Regions from separate parts of the Homo sapiens genome. Here region 1 is reported to be linked to region 2. Evidence: microRNA targets listed by miRTarBase, many of them from high-throughput screens and not tested one by one. Region 2 holds a microRNA gene; the other region holds the end of a gene's coding sequence.

Region 1 (3,416 bases), not on the chromosome of region 2:
AAATGACCTGACCGATGGCTGGCACCCTCAGCCAGAGCTAAGAAGATGGATTCCTACCTTGTTAAGTACCACATTTGCATGTAGACCCAAAACGTTTAAGAGCCACTTAAATATTCAAGACAAATGAAATATGTGAGAATAAGGTTTTAAAAAACCCTTTAGAAGATGTTCAAGAGATACTGCCTCGCCTAACGTGATGTTTCCAATCTTCAAACGTGAGTAGGTCCCAAGAGGAAAAGCACACCTCACTCAGATTGATCAAAAGTTTAAGGGTGTACCAGCATGTTTTTATAGAACAATGTGCTCACTTTGAGAAATGAGAAACATGAATTGCAGAAGAATATCTCATATCCTCCATGTTTCAATCTGAAGCAGCACACAAGGCTACTTATTTTCTCCATTAATGCCCAGATAGAAATTAAATAACCTTCTGAACCAAAGTGGGGAAATCCAAAACTGTTGAGATGTTTGTCATATTATGATAGAACAAGGTAACTCTGGTAGGCATTTGGAATTTCACAGTAAGAGAGTGATGACTATACGTAAATGGTAAGTCAATAAGTTATGCTGGCTGAGTATCACTTATCTAAAAACTGCTTATAACCTGGTAGAAAAGTCTGCCATTATGTAGATTTAAAGAAATGTGTTGAAAACAGGAATGCAACACCTGAAAGTCTGCTTGCATAACTACCATTTTCAAAGGCCTTCCTTCCCAAGCTCACCCTAAATGCTCAGCAAGAGTCACATTCTAAAAACTATGCTGGTGATGTTAAAACAACCGAAAAAAACCTCTCCACTGTATCAAAATTGCATCAAGTTCTCCATGAACAAAATTTTTGATCAGGCTCCAAAACAACTCAAGAAATAAATGCCTACTCTCACCAAAAGAGAAAAATACCAATGCCTATTTAGGGTGAGCACAGTTCCATTTTTAACGTATCACCTGAATGAAGCCTTTTTGTAATTATGTAATGCACAACACAACACACACAATCTTAAGAGTCAATAATGGCAGAACTTAAATATTTACTTCAAAGAAGTCTTAAATTCTTGAAAACTTTGGCAGCAAAGAAAGCTGTCAAACGGGAAAACTACTATTTCAAGCAAAACTTAATAACCAAAGTATACAGGAAACCACATTAAATATAATTTATATTCCTTATCATAAAAACACCAATATATTCAAAATAAATGAAGGATGTTAAGGGTGGATAGTTATTTCTTCCCTTTCTTTATGAGAACAGTCTTGGGATAACATTAAATAAAAGAAAAAATAATTTAAATGGATAACATATTCTATATTGAAACAAAGACTGCAGAGCTATAGGGCCAGTATAAGAGTCAAAATGGAAATTAAGAATATTTTCATTTTCCAAGGGTATTAATTTTAGATTTTCACTGGTGCTATATCAGGATGTGCATTGTGACAACGATGGCAGAAAATTTAAAATGTAAAAATGAAAAAGTTGTAACAAAGAGTCAATAACTAATATAACTTCCAAAAATCAAAACTGCCCAACGCATAACTCAAACCATCATTCTTCAGAAAAGTGTGTGTGTGTATATATACATAAAAGCACTATTTATTGTACCATGCTGTATTATTTTAAGACAGAGTATTAAAAAAAAACATTCATGGTATAAGGATAAAGTCTGTAGTTTATTTAGATTTTGAAATGCAACAAAAATTTTCCGATCACTCATCTAGCTGAAAAAGAAATGGTAGTTACTGGAATTAGTAAACACTTTTGGTTTGTAAAGTTGTAATGAGCAGTGTTCATTAAAAAGTAACTCAAGATAAAATATGCAATTAAAATGCCCATTTCTTTAGTTTCTCTGGATACTGTTTAATTATCCAATCTATCAAGAGTCTAGAAAGAAAAAGATTAAACCAGGTTTTACAGTTCCAAAGATATCCCAATTTCCTTTTATTGCCAAAAGTTAAAATTGTCAATTACGAGATGATTATGACACAACCATATCAAACCTAAAAATCTAATTTTTTTTTTACTTTGAGAAATCAAAAATACCAAATAGATTCTAAGTGCTCTATGTTAACTGAAGTGTATATGTAAAGTAAAATACAATTAAGCTTTAAAACGTGGAATATACATTTTGTGTAAGCATTATGTTCTTGGGAATGTAATCTACAGAATTTCTTTTACTAAAACTTCAAAACCTTGATACCTGCACATGAAAAATCATAAAAAATATCTAAGTACAACTGTACAAAGAAACTGACACCAATATGCATACTTCCATAGAGAAGTGACTGCTTCAACAGTTGTGTGTTTTGGTAAAAGTTCTGAAAGTATGCATATTTTTAAAGTAATTAGGCTTTTAAATAGTGGAGTCTTAGACTATCAGATTTTTATTACTTTTTTTCCTTCAAAAAAACACGTCAATATAATGCAAAATGAAAATCAAGGGTATATGGCATATCATTCTTTTTAAAAGGTGGTTTCTTGGTTTTTTTCCCCCTATAGGACACACTAATTTATTTAAGCCATAATCTCTTGACATTAAACTTTTAAGTTCACTCTGTCTGTAAAGTATACTCAGATTCCCTGCTGAAGTGCAATGACTATGCTGAAAAACTTAGAAACAGTATGAGTAAATTTCACACAATTACTAATCTCCTAAGAATGTACAATGTTATCAGTTAGGAAACAATTGTGCGAAAGTCTTTTTTTTTTCCTTTTTAACTTGGTGTGGGTGGAATAGCAAGTTTCTGATCTAAAACAAGTAATGCATTGCTTCTATAAAGGTGACAACATGTAAGGCAGTTCAAAGAATGCTGACTAACCAAACGAAATGCAGTTATTGGATTATCTTGCTATTCATATCAGCTTAACTTGTTATTACGCATTGCTCTTAAATCTGTACAGCACTCCATTTACACAGAGTAACCCCACTCTTGATTAATCTGTTCTAAAGTGCCAGTATTATTTACACTTTTTTTTTTTTTTTAGCCAAAAGTCTGGCCAGTTGTGGCATCAGGTGAAGATGTCATCCCAGCTCTATTATCATTTACATTCACCAAGGGAAATTCTGAAAATTCAGCACTTGTCCCTGGTCCCCGAAGGTTCACCTGTCCATTGGCAGTGCTAAATTGAGTAGCTATTCCAGCTCTTGATCCATGATAGGGAGCACGGAAGGGCTGTTCAAAGGAGCTCATTTGGTAAGCTTGGTGGACAGGCTGGGCCTCAGCTTTCTTCTGAGAAGTCACTTGATCCAGAAAGTCCTGTGTTGATGTGGCAGAAGCATGGTTTGTCTCATCACCTGAAAAGGGAAATGAGTGCTGTGAATCACCAACTATTAGTCCAAAGTGGGACTTATCTGGAGTTGTTCTTAGTGGAGAATTCATTCCTGATCGAAAGCTATTGATGGGCATGGTGGCATAGACCTGCTTGTCT
Region 2 (3,416 bases):
TCCCCCCAGGTCCCCTTATCTCTGAGCTGTCGTGGTCATAGCAGCACCTATACTTTCTATGATATGGTTGGAAAGCGTAGCTCATGTCTGGGCTCCCTAGATTTGCCCAGTCTGAAGAATAACCATTTACCCCAATGATATGAAAGACCTCAGAGCTGCATATTTGGACAGTGGGCCAGACAGTGGCAAAAGACAAATCATATATCATTAAGGGAACAGTGCAATTTCAGTGCTCTAGATAATTTTTCGTTAAAAATAGTGTTCTAGCCCCAGAAAACTGGCCATTATAGTCACCATAGCTCAAACGCTTTAGTCTTCAGGAGCTTCTAGCCCTTTAGCCTGTCCTAGCTGCCATCTTCTTACACTGCCTACCTCCCAAGTCCCCTTACCTCTGGGCAGTGGTAGTGATGGCATCTACAATTTCCATGATCCGATGCAGGGCAGAGTCAGTGCCAATGGTCATATCGGTGCCACAGAAGTCATTGTCAATTGACCCAACCAGGCCCACAATGTTCAGGTAGCTGGACTTCGTAGCCTCCTCATCTGTGATCTTACCTGACAATGAGAAGCAAACCAGGAGCCACTGGGTGAGGCACCTGGCATGCCTAAAGAGGAGATATCTAGAGAGAGAGAAACTCTAGCCAAAAGGAATTGTAGACAATACCAGAAAAAGGAGGGCAAAGACTGCCTATTTGTGTCTGGGTAACATTTTTCTCCAATGGGAGGTAAAAGCAGGGCGGGGGCGATGTGTGTGTGTACACGCGTGCACGTACCGACACAAATAAGCAATACTGATGTGAAAACTCTCTTACCTGCTTTCTGGAGGTCACTCAACAAGTCACTCCACTCAGAACGGAAGGTGTCAGCCCCAGTGAGGCTGCCATCACCCCCAATGACACAGAGATTGGTGATCCCACGCTTCACCAGGTTGTAGGCAGCTCGGAGTCGTCCTTCTCGTTCCCGAAAGTCCTTGCACCGGGCACTTCCAATCACCGTGCCTCCCTTTGGAAGAGGTAGAAGTCAGCTCCCCAGAGACAGGGCTCAACATGCTGAGATATCCCCTATTCCAATGCTGTGATGGCCTAACATAACTGTGTGACTCCCTAGAAAGTTCCTTGACATCCTTAAGAGTGATCTGTCCCTTCCAAAGGAAAGGGAAATGATGCTGGCTGAGGCATCATAGGGTCATTCCCATATTTTGCTACACATCTGAGAAGACTGCTAAGAACTCCTTTCATTGAAGGCTTTGTCATCCATGACTATCCTAAAGAGAACAAGTGAATACATACATGTATGTTGGCTTCTCAAATAATCTCCAACTTTCACATCTTAGAAGCAGTGACTTCAGTCTTTAGAAATTCTCCCTAATGGCCTGACATTACTGGATTGTGTCCAAATTATTATTAGGAGTTCATCCCAATGTGTTTTGTAGTATTTTTCCTCTCTCTGCACTGAGATTTCTAACTGTACCCAGGTACTGCCAATCCTTTCCCCTTAGCTCCTTGCAATCCATGGTGCTAGCAGCAGAAGCTGCAATATCCAGGTATTCACAGGAAAAATAGCTCTAGGTAAAGAAAGCCTTATAGATACCCCAAGAGAGGTATCTATAAGTCCCTGGGAAATTAAGGCTTTCTATCCCTGAGAGAAAGTATACTTACCTGAGAGAGGTAAGTATACTTAGGTTTTCATATCATATGTACTCCTGGGCAGCCATGACTTTGGGATACTGGTGGAGAATTCTGGCTCATTCTCAGACCACTTTATGGCAGGCACCATTACTTAGCACCTAGGTAGAGCCTTCACTAGACACTGCATATTAAATTTTTGCCCATGGATTTTTAGGGAACTGAGCTGAAAAAAGGGGGATACAAATGTAATTTACAAATTTTCAGTAAACCAGCAAATGATTGTATTTCTCTCACTCACTGTGGGCTAGCCCACAGTGGATACACATGAGAAGCCTAAAACAACATGGAGCAAGTAGCATAAAGGACTGTGGAAATCCTCAGGATACTCTTAGGATTTTTTTGAGACTCCGAAAGGCTGTCTCAGTTCCTTCGTCCTTTAAGTGGTCTGGTTTCAGGTCACCTCATCTCCATCACATGAGGACTGGCAGATTTCAGCTCCACTTCTGGCTCTGGCTCCAGTCCTCTGGTAAGGTTATTTTCAGGGCCAGACCTTCCCTGTGACCCTAGAGTAAGATCTGCTTATGTGTCAGTCCCCATAGTCTTGTTTATGACCTTTCCATAAAGAGCAAAGCATCCTGTGATCACTCCTCCACCCTCTCCCTGCCCCAGGAAACCAGGGTGGTATTTTCAAATGCTAAGAGTAAAGGGCAAATAGGGTCCCTCTCTTGTCACTGAATTCCTTCCCATGAAACCACATGACAGGGAATTTAGGAGACCATGAGCCCAAAACAGAGTGGGATGAAACAAGGACAGAGCAAATATGGGACAGGGAGTTCTCTGGAACATACCAGCTGAAGCATCATCGAAACGCTCTCCCAGGTGGCTTCCTTGATGTGATCTCCACCATCCACCAGGCCTTGATAACCCTGTGTGACACATTATACCTGTTCAGCCCGTTAGGCTTCTCTATAAATTCCCAAGATTAAGACAGGATCCCTGGGAAGAGATTCTCTGAGAGTCAAGCCACCTCCTCCCATTAGTGAGTCCTGGATGCTCGTGAGACTATCATATTTAACACAGTCCAAAGAAGGAGGCATCAACTTTTGCAATACTCTCTTCTACTTTCTCCCATTTTTGAAATACTGGGATGTGGATATCCTTCCTAATAGTTAATCTTAATTCTTATTTTTGGCTCATCCTATCTCCTCCAACCTGCTTCCTAGGGGGCCAATGATAACAGATGGTCTTGATAACCATGGAGAAAAGGAGAAGGGGAAGTTGGTGGGAGGGAAGGAAAGAAACGCGACTTGCTCTAAAAGATTATAAAATCTGATACAAGAAAGCAGGTGGACCTTATAAAAAGAAGAGTGGGTGAAGCATGAGAGGGTACTGGGAGAAGGGTGCAAAAGAAGATTTGAGAACCTCAGAAAGTTATGCAAACTACAGAAATGCAGCAAGTCTCTTTTCTCCTGGGGCTCTTCCTCTGGATATACTAAATTTGCTGTAAATACTACCCATTTCCATTTCTTTCTCTGTTTTGAGGGAGATAAAAGGAGGACTGAGAGTTACTTTTTCCTTTAAATTGAACAGGCAACATGAAGACCCAGTTTGTAGATGCTCAGGTCCCACCATCACTATTGGAGTCAAGTAGGAAAGAGTGACTCATGAAGCTACGGAGTCAAGGAAAATCAAACACAGCAATGTAACTAACTGGGAGGTAAGGACACAGAATGTGGGAAGGGGATAGAAGGCAGATTTAGAAGAAGACAGAGAAAGAATGATGAAGAA

Evidence for each region. Region 2 holds the annotated microRNA hsa-miR-6505-5p (UUGGAAUAGGGGAUAUCUCAGC, at 1,049-1,070, opposite strand). A microRNA usually pairs through its seed, bases 2 to 8, with sites in the 3' UTR of a target mRNA and lowers its output. Matches are read on the target gene's strand: a 7mer-m8 pairs with bases 2 to 8, a 7mer-A1 pairs with bases 2 to 7 and ends in A, and an 8mer does both.
Region 1: the mRNA of ZNF148 is a reported target of hsa-miR-6505-5p. Seed matches in the 3' UTR shown: 7mer-m8 at 2,717-2,723, 7mer-m8 at 2,103-2,109 and 7mer-A1 at 509-515.

What each region holds. Positions count from the first base shown.
Region 1 is chr3:125,229,373-125,232,788 of GRCh38, forward strand. ZNF148 (zinc finger protein 148) reads right to left here. Exons shown (of 9, transcript NM_021964.3): 9 at 1-3,416. The coding sequence ends at 2,969. Among named protein-coding and RNA genes, the nearest start is that of SLC12A8, 18 kb to the left of the region's middle. RefSeq lists a silencer at 2,459-2,659 and an enhancer at 2,593-3,416.
Region 2 is chr12:48,130,454-48,133,869 of GRCh38, reverse strand. MIR6505 (microRNA 6505) reads right to left here and starts at 1,073; the gene lies at 1,003-1,073. PFKM (phosphofructokinase, muscle) reads right to left here. Exons shown (of 23, transcript NM_000289.6): 4 at 2,477-2,554; 5 at 813-1,002; 6 at 390-555.